Homo sapiens: one gene and its partners. The protein of the gene in region 1 purifies or fractionates together with the protein of each later gene. This does not show direct contact. Each region holds a gene or a part of one and is shown in the gene's direction. Other genes may lie near its edges. The genes, in order: KATNBL1, KATNB1, CDKL1, WDR62 and ATXN2L.

Region 1 (3,908 bases):
TGTTATCCAATTCCCTTATGAGAGACCTCTCTCATCTGCATCAAGAGACTCATTGGGGACCTCAAGCTATGTGTGATGCAGTCCTTTGGGTTTATGGATGTGTAGCAATTTACACTTTGACATGACAGGTTACAGATAGTTGCCTAGTATTTAGGATGACTAATAAGCAGACCCTCAGAAAACCACCTCTTAGGGGAAGGTATCTGGAATTAAGACTGTTCCAAAGTATCCAAGTTGATTACGCCAAGATGCCCCAAATTGGTTGTCTAAAATATTTATTAGTAATAGTAGATCACCTTACTCATTGGGTAGAAGCTATTTCCTTTCAAGTGCAACTGCTAATAATGTAGTCAAAACATTAGTTGAAAATATTATACCCAGGTTTGGATTAATAGGAAACATTGATTCAGATAATGGAACTCATTTCATTGCACATGTCATTAAGAAATTAGCCCAGGTACTGGATATAACATGGGAAATCATACTCCCTGGCACCCACCTTCATCAGGAAGAGTGGGGAAAAAAATGAACCAAACTCTAAAAAGCCACTTAAGCAAATTAGTCTTAGAGACTCGGTTGCCATGGACTAGATGCCTTCCCATTGCCCTGTTGAGAATCCGAACTGCTCCTCAGAGAGATGTTGGCTTATCCCCTTATGAAATGTTGTGTAAGTTGCTCTATTTGCACTCCGCTGCTGACATTCCCATGTTCGAAACAAAAGATCAGTTTCTCAGAAATTATATACTTAAGTTTATCTTCCACTTTCTCTTGCCTCAGAACTAAAGGTCTTTTAGCACAGGCACCACCCCTAGAGTTTCCAGTACACCAACATCAGCCTAGGGACCACATCCTTGTCAAAAGTTGGAGGGAAGGAAAACTTGAACCAGCTTAGGAAGGACCCTGCCTAGTGCTTCTAACCATTGAGACCACAGTTCAAACAGCAGAAATGGGATGGACTCATCACACCCAGGTCAAAAGAGCACCACCTCCTCCAGAATCATGGGCAGCTATTCTAGGGCTTACTCTAACCAAGCTAAAGCTAAAACGGGTTTGATCCTCTTATGTTGCATCTCTTCTTTTCCCCATCTATTGCTAGTCCTCTTGTTATTAATGTAACTAGGTCGAGTTCACCCCAAACTATTACCTTTGATGCTTGCCTTGTGATGCCCTGTGGAGATGTGCCAAGCCAGAGGCAACTCTCCACTTCAGAAAAGTATCTTTGTCCTTCCTAGCTCTTCTCAGACTGGAATTCTGTTAACTGGGATAAGTTAGCTTGGGAAGAGTTTGACGGAGATTCCAGTATAAACTGAGAGTCTTGCCTTCCCAATACAAAGCTTTTATGCTGTAGTTGGTCCAACATTCTGTGGACCACTAAAGAGCAAGAATAGATTGCCCCAAGCAGTAGTTGTAATTTCCTAAAGCTATACATTCATTTTACTAAAGGAACAGCTTCCCCTAACTGTCAGCTAAATCAGTACAATCCAGTACAGGCTATTATCTCAAACCCTCTAAGTTCTTCCCCTTCTCTAAGCCAATTTCCTTCTTTAAGCCAGTTTTATAATATGGGGGCTGAGGTTTCAGGAGCAGACCCTATCAGATCCTTTGAAATATTCTTCATTGCTCCCCCACCGCCTACACCTTCCCCTAAGCCTTCTTCCAGAACCTCCCACAACAAAACTGTTGTTCTTCCTCCATCTAATGACAAGACGAAGGTAGCTATTGTAGAAGTCAAAGTCCTAAAAGAAACTTTAGCAATTGAGACGGGATATCAAAATGCCAATGCCTGGTTAGAATAGATAAAATATTTCATCCGCACTTTAAACAAAAGCAATTGTTATGCTCGTGCGCATGGCAGGCCAGAGGGCCAGATTGTCCCCTTTCCACTATGATGGTCCTCCAGTCAACCAGGCATGGGCTGTATGGTAGCTCTTTTTCCAGGATTCCACAGCCTGGGGTAACAAGTCGTGCCAAGCTCTTTCTCTGCTATATCCCGAAGTTCAAGACCCCACAGGTTAGCCCCCGAGGGCCATCCAGCTTCTGTCTCCCGACACTGAGTTCATTTTGTGTCTCTCACGACAAAGAGGAAACTTAGCATCCCTTAGAGACCTAAAAGGATGCGGTGAGCTTAAGACTTTCCAAGAGCTCACCAACCAGTCAGCCCTTATACACCCCCGAGCAGATGTATGGTGATATTGTGGTAGACCTTTGCTGGACACTCTGCCTAGTAACTGGAGTGTCACTTGCGCCCTAGTGCAGTTGGCTATCCCTTTCACCCTGGCATTTCATCAACCAGAGAAAGAAAAAAACACAATGTCATAAAGCAAGGGAAGCCCCTTATGGGTCTTTCGACTCCCACATTTATTTAGATGCAATTAGAGTCCCACGAGGAGTACCAAATAAATTTAAGACCTGAGATCAAATAGCTGCTGGATTTGAGTCAATATTTTGGTGGGTGACAATTAATAAAAACGTAGATTAGATAAATTCCACCTATTACAACCAACAGCGGTTTATTAACTATACTAGAGATGCTGTTAAAGGAATAGCTGAGCAATTAGGGCTTACTAGCCAGATGGCTTGGGAAAATAGAATGGCCTTAGACATGATTTTAGCAGAAAAAGGGGAAGTTTGCATCATGATTAAAACTCAGTGTTGTACCTTCATCCCAAACAATACCGCCCCTGATGAAAGTATAACAAAGGCATTGCAAGGTCTAACTGCTCTGTCCAATGAGTTAGCAAAAAACTCAGGAGTAAATGACCCCTTCACAGGGTGGCTAGAAAAATGGTTTGGTAAATGGAAAGGGATCACAGCCACCATCCTTACTTCTCTTGCAATTGTAGCAGTAGTGCTTATCCTTGTTGGATGCTGCATCATACCTCGCATCCGTGGGCTAGTCCAAAGACATACAGAAACAGCCCTTACTAAAACTTCTCTCAGTTCCCCTCCACCATATTCTGACAAGCTCTTTCTTTTAGAAAACCAAGCAGAACAGCTATGCCAAGACATGTTAAAGAAATTTGAAGAGGAAGACCTGTAAAATTCAAAAGGGGGATATTGTTAAGTACAGTGAGTTCTGAGTTCCTCTGGGAACCAGTATGTCAGTATGTTCAGCTTTCTTATACTTTGTTCTCCATTTTAAAGTTTAACTTCCTCATTCTTTACACCTCCTTGCCCTAGTTTCAGTAAACAACCCCCTTCTAGCCTTTATACTCACATATTTAGAGTCCTTAGTCATCCTTAGTCACCTGCTCTGTCCTTAGTCATCCTTAGTCACCTGCACTGTAACCATCCTTCCTGCCTAAACTGCTCACCCCGCCACTCTGCCTCATACCCAGATAGCCTATCAGAATTAGTTTAGACTGTGCGGTCCAACCCTAGCCAATAGGGGAATGACACAGTAGTAGGGACTAGCTGCATTAGGGATAAGAACCCCTTCTCCTCCCATGCCCGGTATGCTCTTGCGACCACTCCAGGCACGATTGGCACCCTTCTGCAGAAGTAAATTGCCTTGCTGAGAAAGCTTTTTGCCGGAGTGCTGATTCTTCTTTGCGGCACCAAGCATTTGTTTCTAACATCAACTATCTACTTTCATTTTTCAGGTTAAGAAATCTCCAAAACAGTTGGCTGCTTACATAAATAGGTAAGAGTTTCTTTAAAGTTTGTGGGGAACAACAAATATGAAAGCTGGGTAAGGATGACAATAAGGGAAAAATAAGCATTCTTTTATCATAATAATAATTAACTTATTGTCAAACAGCTTCTTTATGCCAGTATCTGCACTAATAAACACATCAATATTGTCTCTGCTCCTTACAACAGTCCTACTCTATAGCCTACTCTATAGATAACATTAACCCTAACAGTTGATGAGAAAACTTAAGATCAGATAAGTTAAATGATTTGTT
Region 2 (3,908 bases), on another chromosome or scaffold:
TCCCTTCGACAGCTGGCCTTTCCCCAGAGCTAGGCACTGGGGAGCCACTGGGGGACAAAGTAGTCAAGGTCTCTGTACAGCGGGAGCTCAGAGCCTGGGGAGAGCAACAGGCAGGAACTGGATAACCGTATCCCTCTGTGTCTCCTCTAGTTGCAAGCTGGTGCCTGTGCTTTGAATCAGTTAGCTGGGGGGTAGGGGTAGGGGTGGGGTGGGAATGCTGCAGGCTGCATGAACAGCAAGTGCAAAGGCCCTGAGGCAGGAGGCTCAGTGTATTGGAAGGACTCAAGGGAGGCCATGGGCAGTGGCACAGCAGCAGGAGGAATGTGGGGCCGCACGGACCTACTGAGTTCTCAGGACCCCAGCCCTCCTGAGGCTGCCGTGCTTTATCATAAAGGCAAGGCCAAGCCATCAGTGTGTGCGAGCAGGAGGTAATGAGATCAGGCGTATTGGGCATCTGCTGCTGCTGCTGATTTCATGTGCACGGTGGTGTCCGTGGGAATCAACTCTGAAGAGCCCAGGGCCACGTGACCTCTGGCTCCTTGTGGCTCCAGGGTCTGGTGAGGATCAGAGGTGCGTGGCCCACATGAGGTCGTTGAAACCTAGTACTTTGTATCTTGCATTTGGGATGCTGATCCTCAGCCCCTCTGGCCACGCCGCACCATGTTCCCCAGCTTTGGCTGGATGTGGGGCCCAGGTTGTACTCCCAGAGCTTGGCCTGCCAGTAGACACTGAGGATTTTTATTTTTTATTTTTGGTATGAAAATCAAGTATTCGGCCTGGGCTGTTGGTTGCTGTCCAACAAGCCAGGATGAAGGAGGAGCTCTTGGGGTGGTGCCCCGTGCCTCCTTTGCAGGTGCCTGTGCTGTGTCCCTGCCCCTCTGCCCTCCCTCTGTGGGCTCCAGTCAGTCCCTGGTCAGGCTGCTTAGAGGGGAGTGATGTGGGCTCCTCCAGAAGGGCCCAACTTCTAAATCTTTCTCACTCCAAAGTCTGCGGTTTTGCCAGCTCAGTGTCCCGCCCCCACCACCATCTGATTATACTGGGGCATATTTCGTGCAAGGCCTAGAACAGGCACCCAGGAAATACTGATATTATGAATGAATGCCCCTGACTCCAGGGGCAGCAGTCCTGAGGCCCAGTGAGGTGGGGCCCAGCCAGACACTTTCCCTGGGAGGAGTGAGGGCCAGGGGACAGACAGAGCCCTCCAGGTAGGCCAGGGGGAGCGAGCAGTGCCTCCACGGAGAGGACACCAGGCTCGGGCACGGAATGCCAGGGAGAAGGTGCTTTGCCCTCTTTCTGGGTCAGGTGGAAACCTTGAACAGACACGTCTGTGGCTGGAATTCCTCAGGTTTCTGTCCCGACAGTGTCCAGAGGACAGAAGGCTCTCATCGAGACGGGACTAAAGTGGGGCCCAGCTCCCTGGGATCCCCATGGCGAACTCCCAGCGCCCTGGCCCAGGTTTGGGCCCACAGGGAACCCTCGCCCTTGCTGGCGCTGCTGCCTGTGCTGGCTCTGCCCCGACCGGCCCAGGAGGCAGGGTGTCATCAGTGAGATTCAGCCTGCGACTTGTCCCCTGGGTATTCCTGGTGGCCCCTTGGAGCCCAGGTTTCTGGCAAGCAGCTTCCCTGGGCCCAGTTTCCCAACCTCCTTGTGGTCTGAAGCCCGCAGCAGAGACACCCAGGCAGGGTGGAGTCGGAGCTGGGGTGCAGGAGGGGCCTCTGTGGAGCGCCGTGGCTCCAACACCCTTTTCCTTGGCGTCACCCACGCTGGCCTTCCGGGTGCCTCGGGGCGTCAGCACCTTGGGGTTTTCCCCTGGCCTGTGTGGGGAGAACTGTCTTTTTTCTCCCTTCTTTCCAGGAGGAGCTCATGCAGGGATGGGTTCTGAGGCCCGGGCCGCCTCTTGGTTCCCTGCCTGTGCTTTGCTCCCTGCGGAGTCCTCCGAGGCTCCTGTCTGCCATCTCCACGGACCAGGCCAGGGCCTTGGGCTGTCTGCACAGGCTCCTCCTCTGTGTGGTCAGCCCTCACCCCCACCCCAGCTGCTCAGTCTGTTGCCTCCTGCCCCCTCCTCATGAAGCCCACCCTCTGGTGCCCGCCCAGGCCCCCATGCCCACTCTCTCATGGTGACTAGCCCCGAGCCTGCCCAATGTCACGGAGCCCTCGCCTGCTACTAAGCAGCACGTAGGCGCGCTCTGAGGGAGTCCTCAGCATCAGGTGTGAGCAGACACCACGGGCATCCCCACTTTCCAGACGAGGAGCCAGGCCCTCAGAGGACAAGTGACCTAGTAGCCAAGGCCACGCAATAGCAGATCACAGACCTCAGACCAGAACCTGATCCGTGATTGTGAATCTGAGCCGAAGCCCTGTGCAGGCTTACCTGGGGGCAGCTTGTCTAGAGGTGACTTCGGTTGTTCTTAAAGTGTGTTCTCCAAAGCAGGGTTTGTATGTACACACAAGCAGCAGCTGAGAGGTGTGTAGGCAGTGCATGGGTCAATTTTTTTTATTTCAATAATTGTTTTTCTTTTTGTATCATAGAAAGAGTATCATGAGTATATCAAACTTGTAATTTCATGGACATTGCTTAAGCCCAAGCTAATAAAAATAGCAAGTCAATTTTAAAAATTGCGTATAACTAGTCAATATTACCAGGTGATATGCAGAAACAGGAAGAAAATCGTGAAGTCTAAAGGTAGGAAAGACAGGCATGATGAAAGTTGAGAAACAGTGATTTCCGTCTCAGGCCCATGCCCTGCCCTGTCTGCTGGTCCTGCAGCTCATGGTGGACACCAAAGGGGGAGCTGAAGGAGGCAGATCCTTCCACTGGGCTTCAGGTTCCAAAGCGGGTAGCCGAGCAGGGTCACCCCTCCTTCACAAGGCCCCATCGGGCCGCCCTGATGGCCTCTCCCTCTCCTTCCCTGTGTAGAAGAGATCGTCGCGCATGCCAGCAACGTGTCCTCACTGGTGCTGGGCAAAGCCTCCGGGCGGCTGCTGGCTACAGGCGGGGATGACTGCCGCGTCAACCTGTGGTCCATCAACAAGCCCAACTGCATCATGGTGAGCCCCGACAGCTGGCGGGGGGTCAGGACAAGGGCCTGGGGAGGGGACGGGGACAGGGGTTGGAGGCTGAAGAGTGAGCAGCTTCTCAGACTCTCTTGAGCCCAGGGCCCCCTATCCGCTGGGGCCCAGCTCAGGGGTGGAGGGGGCGTGGTGGGGACACCATCAGTGCTTCCCCCAGCTGTCTGCTCAGTGAGGCCCAGGACAGCCCAGCATGGCTGGGACAGTGGCCAGCCCTCAGGAGCGAGGGAGTCACCTGCCTGTGGTACTATTAAGAACTCCAGGCAGGCTGCGTGAGAAGATTAAAATAAGCCCTGGGCCTGTGGTTGAGCCAAAAGACTTGTACCCCTCCCCTCCCACCTGCCCATCTGCCTGCCTGGCAGCAACATGTGGGCGTTTATTTTAATTCATTCCCAGCCTTCATTCCCCAATGAGGATTTGAGGGGACCTGGCTGGAGCTGGTTAGGGAGCTAGTTCTTAAATAGCATCTCCCCACTATTTATGCAGCTATATGTTCAATGCTGGAAACTGTTTTCCAAATAGGAGTGCATAAAGGAGAAAACACAAAATTAACTACATATAGTTCCGTTATCCAAAGGCCACCACAGTTGGTGTTTTGGTGTGAGTCCTTCTAGATGCTGAGACAGATACATATACGTGTACATGCACGTAAGTGCACACTTGTACATGCATGTACACATGTATACACACAAATACTCATACAAGCACACACACATAAATAAAAATACACTGCCACTCTTGTGCAGCCTGGTTTTTAAAAATAACAATGTTGTAAGGATTTGCCTGTGTCAACAAGTATTCTTTTACAACATAATTTTGAATGGCTTAATGGTGTTCCA
Region 3 (3,908 bases), on another chromosome or scaffold:
AATACAAACCAAAACAAACAAATACAAAACAAATACAAACCATACAAATACAAAGTAATACAATAGAATAATTGTATTACTAAGGCCCCAAGCCCCTATGCTGCTGAACCTTCTCTCTGTGGAATGAAAATGGTAAGAAGAGGAAAGAAAGAATTTCTGCCAGCAGTGGCAGAAAAAGTAGATGCTCCTAGCGGAGTTGGAGGTCAAGGACAGGACAGTGTCACTGTGGGATCCCTGGGCAGACGTTCTACCTATGGCAGGTGGTATGGGGGCGTTAAAATATATTAGACCAGCATTGGTCAAGGGCTGAAAGCAGCAGCTGGGACATTGTCTATGACATGTCTCCCTCCAGAAAACAAGAAAAACAAGTGAGACAAAGAGAAGGAATCATCTACTGCTATGTGGCAGGTAGGGGCAAGGGACCTAGTAAATTTGGACAAACTGCCAAGTATCATTGTTACTTAGGATGCACAAATTACACTAATAACAACCTTAGAAGGTAGATATCGTTACACTAATAACAACCTTAGAAGGTAGATATTGTTATCCCATTTTACAAATGGATTCAGTATGGTTAATGATTTGCCAAGGCCTCCCGGTCAGTAAGCTGGAATGCAGACACAGTTCTGTCTGTCCCCAAGTTCATGCCATGTGGTTTCCCCATACCAGAACCATCCATCACTTTATACCAAACACCATACTCTGAAGTCTCCCAATGACTGGTCGTCAGAATTTATACTGCCCGTTCTCCCGCAGGGCCTTAGCTGTGAGATTTGTGGCTTCTGTGGAGGCCTGAGTGCAGATTGTAGCTGAACAGCCGTTCTTTCCATATCTCATTCCATAACCCTATGGACTATTTTAGAAGGCTAAAATAGCCTTCTAAACCTTTGTACAAACCTTTGTAGGTTTGCCACCTACAAAGATGAGAATAAGTGTGAGGGGAAATGTCCATTTGAAAATTAATTATAAATATCACAACGTAATGCAGAGATTCATAATGAGAACAAGGTCACTCCTAAAGGGTGAAAATTGGTTCTTGGCAGGTGGCAAAAAAATCTAACTTTTTTATTGTTTAAAGCACAGATATACATATGGTTCATATACAGATATATAGTATATTTGTGATATTAAAATTTCATTGGTAAGTGATTAGAAAAAATGTGTAAAATGACTCTTTGAGGGAGAGAAATGAAAAAAGGTGCATGGGGTGTGGGCGAGTGGCACTGTTGAGTGTATCCTAGGTGCCAGAAGTAGGCTCTCATTTGATTTTAATTCATCGTGAATAGTAACCTGCAGAATGTCCAGAGCATCCCTTTTTTCCCTGCTGTCCCCTTTGATCAGTAGCCTTATAGAAGGGACAGGGGCATGGGGACAGGAGCTACAGTTAGAGACTTCAGTTTTCTTTTCTCTCTCTTTTTTTTTTTTTTTTTTTTTTTTTTGAAGACAGTCTCACTCTGCTGCCCAGGCTGGAGTGCAATAGCGCAATCTCGGCTCACTGCAACCTCTGCCTCCTGGGTTCAAGCGATTATCCTGCCTTAGCCTCCCCCAGTAGATAGGACTACAGGGGCGTGCCACCACACCCAGCTAATTTTTGTATTTTCAGTAGAGACAGGGTTTCACTGTGTTGTCCGGGCTGGTCTCAAACTCCTGATCTCATGATCCGCCTCCCTCGGCCTCCCTAAGTACAGGGATTACAGGCATGAGCCACCACACCCAGCTATGGAACTTCAGTTTCTGATCATGCTTGAAGCTGTGGAGTGACCTTGGGCAAGCTCTGGTGCTTCCTGGAGCCTGGCGTGCCTTATCGCTATGATTTATGTCCCTGTTTGGCATTGCTTTGCTGATTTTTTGCTGAGGAGGGCAGAGGGCTCTTGGGCCAAACATCTAACAGCGGTCAAGCAGCCTCAAGGATGCAAGAGCAGGAAAGTAGAGGGTCAAAGGGAGTAAACATAGAAGAGGAAAGCACAGACAGAAGGGCAGAAGGTGGGATTTTAACATAGTGCTGTGGCCAACGGCCAACGGAGGCGCTGGAGGCAAAAGCTCTTCACACAGTCCCCCAAGAGGCTCACTGTCTTCAAAGAGCAGACCAGAAGTCCTGCTGGGCACATTACCATCATGGTGACAGGCACATGCTTTAAGAAGTAGGACTGTCAAGGTTGCCTGTTATCCAAAGCATTTATTAAGTGCTTAACTGAATGTGCTCTGTGCAGTGCCACATCCACTAAATGCTAAGAGTACCATGTAAATGCTCCCTAGCATTAGAATCTAATTAGAACTTTCATAGTTGGAAGGGCTTCTGCTCTTCAAATATTAGTTGAAGGAGTGTTTCCTCACTCAGTAAAAACCTCAGCCAGCTGCAGTGGCTCATGCCTGTGATCCCAGCACTTTGGAAGGCTGAGGCAGGTGGATCACGAGGTCAGGAGTTTGAGACCAGCCTGGCCAACATCCCCGTCTCTACTAAAGATACAAAAAATTAGCCAGGTGTGGTGGCGGGCACCTGTAACCACAGCTACTTGGGAGGCTGAGGCAGGAGAATCGCTTGAACCCGGGAGGTGGAGGTGGCGGTGAGTCGAGATAGAGCCATTGTGCTCCAGCCTGGGCGACAGGGCAAGACTCTGTCTCAAAAAAACAAAACAAACAAACAAACACCTCAGTGGAAAATCCTGTGACATCTTTAAGAATTTCATCCTGCTTTTGCTAATAGGGGTCATTCTAGGCTCCCTCTCTTCAAATTGTTTAATTGGCTTGTTGAGGTGAATTAATAACATATGTCTATTAATTGTTTTAGCTGAGTTCAGCATTTTCTGTTATGGATTATGGATTAACAAACCCAAATGTCTGTGGAATCACACTGTTAACATAAATGAGGGAAGCAGTCTGAATATAGGGCAAGATGGAGAGGTGGAGACTGGGGCAAACTGGGGTCCTCATGTCTGATCTAAAGTGGACAGCTACTGCTCAGTGCCACAGACTGCAAGCCTAAGGTGCTGGGTTTTCAGTCTTTTTTTTTTTTGAGATGGAGTCTTGGTCTTGTCACCCAGGCTGGAGTGTAATGATATGATCTGGGCTCACTGCAACCTCTGCCTCCCAGGCTCAAGCGATTCTCCTGCCTCAGCCTCCTGAGTAGCTGGGATTACAGGTGCCCACTACCATGCCTAACTAATTTCTTGTATTTTTAGTAGAGACGGGGTTTCACCATGTTGGACAGGCTGGTTGTGAACTCCTGACTTCAGGTGATCCACCTGCCTCGGCCTCCCAAAGTGCTGGGATTACAGGCATGAGTCACCGCATCAGGCCCACCACCCCCACCCCCATTTTTTTTTTTTTTTTAAGACAGGGTCTCAGTCTGTTGCCCAGGCTGGAGTGCAGTGGGGCAATGATGGCTCACCGCAGCCTCAATCTCCAGGGCTCAGGTGATCCTCCCACCTCAGCCTCCTGAATAGCTGGGACTACAGGCATGCATCACCACACTAGGCTAATTCTTTGTATTCTTTTTTTTTTTTTCTTTTTGAGACGGAGTCTCGCTCTGTCTTCCAGGCTGGAATACAGTGGCGCGATCTTGGCTTACTGCAACCTCCACCTCCCAGATTCAAGTGATTCTCCTGCCTCAGTCTCTTGAGCAGCTGGGATTATAGGTGCATGCCACCACACCTGGCTGGTTTTTGTGTTTTTAGTAGAGATGGCCAGGCTGGTCTCAAACTCCTGACCTCGGCCTCCCAAAGTGCTGGGATTACAGACATGAGCCACTGCGCCCAGCCAATTCTTTGTATTCTTTGTAGAGATGGGGTTTCTCCATGTTGCCCAGGCTGGTCTCAAACTCCTGTGCTCAAGCAATCCTCCTGCCTCGGTCTCCCAAGGTACTGGGTTTACAGGCATGACCCCCAACATGTCCAGCCAGAGTCTTTTTT
Region 4 (3,264 bases), on another chromosome or scaffold:
TCTGGGAGACGTGGAGGCCTCTGAAGCTGAAGACCACTTCTTCAACCCACGCCTGAGTATCTCCACGCAGTTCCTCTCAAGCCTCCAGAAGGCATCCAGGTAGAAGCTGGCCAAGCACTGCCCACCCTCTGGCTCCTCAACAGTGCCCCAGGGCAGGCTGAATGAGAATCATCCCCCCTGCTCTCCTCCCCACAGGTTCACCCATACCTTCCCTCCCCGGGCAACCCAGTGCCTTGTGAAGTCTCCAGAGGTCAAGCTCATGGACCGAGGCGGAAGCCAGCCCAGAGCAGGTACTGGCTACGCCTCCCCAGACAGGACCCACGTGAGTATTGGGCCCACCTCCGTCAGGGCACGGGGCTGGGAACCCTGAGGCCTTGTCCTCACCTCAGAGCTGTGCCTGCAGGTCCTCGCTGCAGGGAAGGCTGAAGAGACCCTGGAGGCCTGGCGCCCACCACGTGAGTGCCCCAGTCCCAGACGGACAGTCCTGGGTTTCTCGGCGAGTGGCCGGATGTCCAGCCTAGCTGTGGGGCGTGGGGGCCCTAGCCATCAGTTCTGTGTGGTGGAGTCAGTGCCATCTGCTTCCGTTACAGCTCCCTGCCTTACGAGCCTGGCGTCCTGTGTCCCTGCTTCCTCCGTGCTGCCCACAGACAGGAATCTCCCAACGCCCACATCTGCACCCACCCCAGGCCTGGCTCAGGGTGTCCATGCCCCCTCCACCTGTTCCTACATGGAGGCCACTGCCAGCTCCCGTGCCAGGATATCACGCAGCATCTCCCTCGGTGACAGTGAGGGCCCTATCGTGGCCACACTGGCCCAGCCCCTCCGTAGGCCATCGTCCGTTGGGGAGCTGGCCTCCTTGGGCCAGGAGCTTCAGGCCATCACCACCGCGACAACACCCAGTTTGGACAGTGAGGGCCAAGAGCCTGCCCTGCGTTCCTGGGGCAACCACGAGGCCCGGGCCAACCTGAGACTGACCCTGTCAAGTGCCTGTGATGGGCTCCTGCAGCCCCCCGTGGATACCCAGCCTGGCGTCACCGTCCCTGCAGTGAGCTTCCCAGCCCCTAGCCCTGTGGAAGAGAGCGCCCTGAGGCTCCACGGCTCTGCCTTTCGCCCAAGTCTCCCAGCTCCTGAGTCCCCTGGCCTTCCTGCCCACCCCAGTAACCCCCAGCTTCCAGAGGCCCGGCCTGGCATCCCTGGCGGCACTGCCTCCCTCCTGGAGCCCACCTCCGGTGAGTACAGCCCTGGAGCAAGGACTGTCCCCTAAGCTCATCCTGTGTGCTAGTTGGCTCAGCTCCAAAGATGGATACTTGACCTGGCCACAGGGACTGTGCCATTCATTCATTCGTGCATTAACTTAAATATTTAATGAGCATTACATGTTGGGCTTTGTGCTAAACCCTGGGACATGGGACATGGTGGTAAACAACACAGAGAACTGACAGCTTCAATGGGGACAATGCCCAGACTAAACCTTTAAGGAACCCGTCATATGTATCACGAAGTGACACATGCTTAGGAGGGACAGAGGAGGGCGAGGGAGTGCAGGGTGGGGACAGGGGTTGGGATTACAAACCAGAAGATAAGAAGAGGCTTCAGGGAGGAGGCTGCATTGGAGCAGAGACCTGTAGGAGTGAAGGGGAGGGAGCCTTGGGGACCCAGAGAAGTGTTCCAGACAGAAGTACAGCATGGAGTCCACCCAGTCGCTCTGGCCGCTCACACCAATGGAATGCAGCTCATCTTGCTCATTCCCTTCTCTCTACCCCAGGTGCACTTGGTCTGTTACAGGGCAGCCCTGCCCGCTGGAGTGAGCCCTGGGTGCCGGTTGAAGCCCTGCCCCCATCTCCCCTTGAGCTGAGCAGGGTGGGGAACATCTTGCACAGGCTGCAGACCACCTTCCAAGAAGCCCTCGACCTTTACCGTGTGGTGAGCTAAGCCCCAGAGTTGGGAAAGGGTTGAGGGGTCTCTTGAGACCGCCCGGCCTTGGTGGCCCCTGACAAGGCTGGCATCCCTTGCAGTTGGTCTCCAGTGGCCAGGTGGACACCGGGCAGCAGCAGGCACGGACTGAGCTGGTCTCCACCTTCCTGTGGATCCACAGCCAGCTGGAGGCTGAATGCCTGGTGGGGACTAGTGTGGCCCCAGCCCAGGCTCTGCCCAGCCCAGGACCCCCGTCCCCACCGACGCTGTACCCCCTGGCCAGCCCAGACCTGCAGGCCCTGCTGGAACACTACTCGGAGCTGCTGGTGCAGGCCGTGCGGAGGAAGGCACGGGGGCACTGAGGGCGCAGCCCCTCCACCGCAGCCCTGCTGCTTCTGAGGACTTAGGTATTTTAAGCGAATAAACTGACAGCTTTGAGGAATGGTTCCTGGTGTCTGTTTGGGCCTATCCACAAAGCCCTCTTCAAGTGGAAGTGGGGAGGGAGGGTAGAAGGTGATGCCCAGAGGACTCGTGTCTGTCAGTGGAGAGCATGGGACCAGCGCTCCCAAGAAGTTCAGGAACTGCAGCCATGACCTCAGGGCCAGTCCTCCCACACTGCCCACAGAGCTGCCACAGACCAGTGTGAGGTGCTTACCCAGTGGGGCCCATTTGTGCCCCAGGGAGGAGCCAGACCCTCTTACCTGCCCCCTGCCAGTGCCTGAGAACTCACTGGGGCTGCTGTGATCACCATGTGCCTACCTTGCCCAGCAGTCCACGCTTTGCCATATCATGGCTCAGGGCCTCTGGGCCAAGGCCACACTAGATCCCACAAAGTCCACGGTGGTGGTGTCCCCATCTGCAACAGGGGAAACTGAGGACCCATGAACAGGCTTGCCCAAGCTGGGTATGGTGGCCTGCACCTATAATCCCGGCTACTCAGGAGGCTGAGGTGGGAGGATCGCTTGAGGCCAGGAGTTTGAGACCAGCCTGGGCAACTTGGTGAAACCCCATCTCTTTATTTCATGTATTTATTTATTTATTTTTGTTTTTGAGATGGAATCTTGCTGTGTCATCCAGGCTAGAGTGCAGTGGTGCGATCTTGGCTCACTGCAACCTCCGCCTCCCGGGTTCAAGCGATTCTCCTGCCTCAGCCTCCCGAGTAGCTGGGATTACAGGCACCCACCACCATACTCAGCTGATTTTTGTATTTTTAGTAGAGACGGGGTTTTGCCATGTTGGCCAGGCTGGTCTCAAACTCCTGACCTTGGGAGATCCGCCCACCTCGGCCTCCCAAAGTGCTGGGATTACAGGCATGAGCCACCGCACCTGGCCAAAACCCCGTCTCTTTAA
Region 5 (2,775 bases), on another chromosome or scaffold:
AGAAGAAAGCCAGGACTAGGGTCTGGGTCAGACTGGACTGTGTGTGTTTCTCTCTTCCAGCTTCAGCCCAGTAGCTCCCCTGAGAACAGCCTGGATCCTTTTCCTCCCCGGATCTTAAAGGAGGAGCCCAAAGGAAAGGAGAAAGAGGTTGATGGTCTGTTGACTTCAGAGCCCATGGGGTCTCCCGTCTCCTCCAAGACAGAGTCCGTATCGGATAAGGAGGACAAACCACCCCTGGCACCATCAGGAGGCACTGAGGGGCCAGAGCAGCCCCCACCACCTTGTCCAAGCCAAACTGGCAGCCCCCCGGTGGGCCTCATCAAGGGAGAAGACAAAGATGAGGGCCCTGTTGCTGAGTGAGTGGAGCGGGGTGGGGCTCTGGGAGGATGGCAGGAGGGATGAGAGCAAGCCGTGAAGATTTACTGTACTTTCTCTCACAGACAAGTAAAGAAATCAACGTTGAACCCTAATGCTAAGGAGTTCAATCCTACAAAGCCTCTGCTGTCTGTGGTGAGCTGGGACAGGAGAATGTGGACTTTGGTTTCTGTGGGGAGACTTGGGCAGTGCTTATAGATGAATAGGGGGAGGAACACTTCACTTCCAGGACCACTTGCCTGGCAGGCAGTGTGAGGAGATGTCATAAAAATGTAAGGATGGCACCTTTGGGGCTGGCTTGGGGAAAATGGACTCAGGTCTCTAGGTTTGGGTGATCAGGGGATCAGGGATCCCAGTGAGTCTGATGAGGGGTTAACAGGCTTTTCTTTGGTTCTTGGCATTTGGCTGAGGGAGTATTGGAGTGGGGTAGTCATGAACAGAGGCCAGCTGACTTGGCTTGAGCCCCTGTATTTGGAAGGTTTGTGATCTTGGACGTCACTTACATTCTCTGCCTCACCTGTAACTTTAGAATACTCATCTCCTCATAGGGTTTAATGTGAGGCTTTATCAAGATAAGTGCAGAATATGTTTGGTATGCAGCATTTCACGAATGTTAATTATTACCACTCTAGGCATGGCCAGGAGTAGAGGGGAAAATACAAAATAAAATTGTCCTCCCTTGTTTTTGCAGAATAAATCCACCAGTACCCCAACTTCTCCGGGGCCCCGGACTCATTCAACTCCCTCCATCCCGGTGCTGACAGCAGGCCAGAGTGGGCTATACAGCCCCCAGTACATCTCCTACATACCTCAGATCCACATGGGACCAGCTGTGCAGGTATGCAGAGAGACTGGCCGGGCCCAGGGTTAGCGGGGTGGGATTTGGTTGCGCTGGTTGAGGGACCAGGTCAGGCCTGTCTGGGCATTCGTGAGCGAGTCATTCAGCCTCATCTGTGTCCTCATCCCCAGGCACCTCAGATGTATCCATATCCTGTATCCAATTCAGTGCCTGGGCAGCAGGGCAAGTACCGGGGAGCAAAAGGTGAGCAGGGCTGGGAGGGGCAGGCGGCGAGGCTGCCAAGGGCCTACTGGCAGGTGGAGCTTGAGCTCTCCTCTCCTCCTCCTCTTCCAGGCTCCCTTCCTCCGCAGCGCTCGGACCAACACCAGCCAGCCTCAGCCCCGCCGATGATGCAGGCCGCCGCGGCTGCTGGCCCGCCTCTGGTGGCTGCCACGCCCTATTCTTCCTACATCCCCTACAACCCTCAGCAGTTCCCAGGCCAGCCAGCCATGATGCAGCCCATGGCCCACTACCCCTCACAGGTGACTGCGGCCCAGGAGGGCAGTGAGGATCCAGGGCCCCTGCTAGGGATCCCATCTTCTCCAGAGACTTGGGAGCTGGCTAGGGGTGGCAGGCAGTGTTGTAGGTGGGATCGGCCCTCTGTGGTATTGGCGGTGTCAGACTTGGGCTTGAGCCCTGGCTCTGGTGGTACCTGTAACAAGGCATTGGACATCTGTATCTCTGAAGTGTAGAGAAAATAGTGTCTGCTGGGTGGGATCGTTATGAATGTTGAATCAATAGGGTGATTGTGAGGAGGCCCAAGCGGTGCTGTGCACGCAGTGACTGGCAGGAGGACACCTTCCCAGCTGGCGGCTGTGCCAACCACTCCTCTCTCTGTCCCGCCAGCCGGTGTTTGCCCCCATGCTTCAGAGCAACCCACGCATGCTGACGTCGGGCAGCCATCCCCAGGCCATCGTGTCATCCTCTACCCCTCAGTACCCTTCTGCAGAGCAGCCTACCCCCCAAGCCCTTTATGGTGAGTCCTGCGCCTGGTCCCTCTGCTCTGGGCTGTGTGCCAGCCCCCTCTGGTGTGCTCAGCACTGGTTCTCCCTCTTTCCTGCTGCAGCCACTGTTCACCAGTCCTACCCACACCATGCCACACAGCTCCATGCCCACCAGCCGCAGCCGGCTACCACGCCTACTGGAAGCCAGCCGCAGTCCCAGCATGCGGCCCCCAGTCCTGTCCAGGTGCCTGCCATGGGGGGTGCTGAGTGGTCCTGGTGCAGGAATGGGTGGCCAGAAGAAGGGATAGAGCTAGGGGTCATTTCTGAGTGGCGAGGACTGGGGGCCAGCGAGTTGCTGGCCTGTGTGGCACTCAACCTTCCCCTCCCCAGCAGCATCAGGCGGGGCAGGCCCCACACTTGGGCAGTGGACAGCCACAGCAGAATCTGTACCACCCAGGGGCCCTGACAGGCACGCCGCCCTCTCTGCCACCGGGACCTTCTGCCCAGTCCCCTCAGAGCAGCTTCCCCCAGCCAGCCGCTGTGTATGCCATCCACCACCAGCAGCTGCCCCACGGCTTCACCAACATGGCCCATGTTACCCAGGTAAGAGCCCAGCTG

What was found.
Region 2: the proteins of KATNBL1 (region 1) and KATNB1 purify together in Homo sapiens (affinity purification with mass spectrometry; 4 studies listed by BioGRID and IntAct, with this or other methods). This does not show direct contact.
Region 3: the proteins of KATNBL1 (region 1) and CDKL1 purify together in Homo sapiens (tandem affinity purification; one large-scale study listed by IntAct). This does not show direct contact.
Region 4: the proteins of KATNBL1 (region 1) and WDR62 purify together in Homo sapiens (tandem affinity purification; one large-scale study listed by IntAct). This does not show direct contact.
Region 5: the proteins of KATNBL1 (region 1) and ATXN2L purify together in Homo sapiens (affinity purification with mass spectrometry; one large-scale study listed by BioGRID and IntAct). This does not show direct contact.

What each region holds. Positions count from the first base shown.
Region 1 is NC_000015.10:34,154,379-34,158,286, reverse strand, and holds part of KATNBL1 (KATNB1-like protein 1), read left to right. Parts: intron 1-3,602; coding exon 3,603-3,643; intron 3,644-3,908.
Region 2 is NC_000016.10:57,738,770-57,742,677, forward strand, and holds part of KATNB1 (katanin p80 WD40 repeat-containing subunit B1), read left to right. Parts: intron 1-2,917; coding exon 2,918-3,048; intron 3,049-3,908.
Region 3 is NC_000014.9:50,386,629-50,390,536, reverse strand, and holds part of CDKL1 (cyclin-dependent kinase-like 1), read left to right. Parts: intron 1-3,908.
Region 4 is NC_000019.10:36,102,753-36,106,016, forward strand, and holds the end of WDR62 (WD repeat-containing protein 62), read left to right. Parts: coding exon 1-99; intron 100-195; coding exon 196-322; intron 323-403; coding exon 404-455; intron 456-590; coding exon 591-1,229; intron 1,230-1,765; coding exon 1,766-1,923; intron 1,924-2,015; coding exon 2,016-2,276; 3' UTR 2,277-2,356; downstream 2,357-3,264. UniProt on the Homo sapiens protein: Required for cerebral cortical development. Plays a role in neuronal proliferation and migration.
Region 5 is NC_000016.10:28,832,999-28,835,773, forward strand, and holds part of ATXN2L (ataxin-2-like protein), read left to right. Parts: intron 1-60; coding exon 61-356; intron 357-440; coding exon 441-510; intron 511-1,066; coding exon 1,067-1,213; intron 1,214-1,344; coding exon 1,345-1,417; intron 1,418-1,507; coding exon 1,508-1,695; intron 1,696-2,059; coding exon 2,060-2,189; intron 2,190-2,279; coding exon 2,280-2,401; intron 2,402-2,547; coding exon of another isoform or gene 2,548-2,550; coding exon 2,551-2,760; intron 2,761-2,775. UniProt on the Homo sapiens protein: Involved in the regulation of stress granule and P-body formation.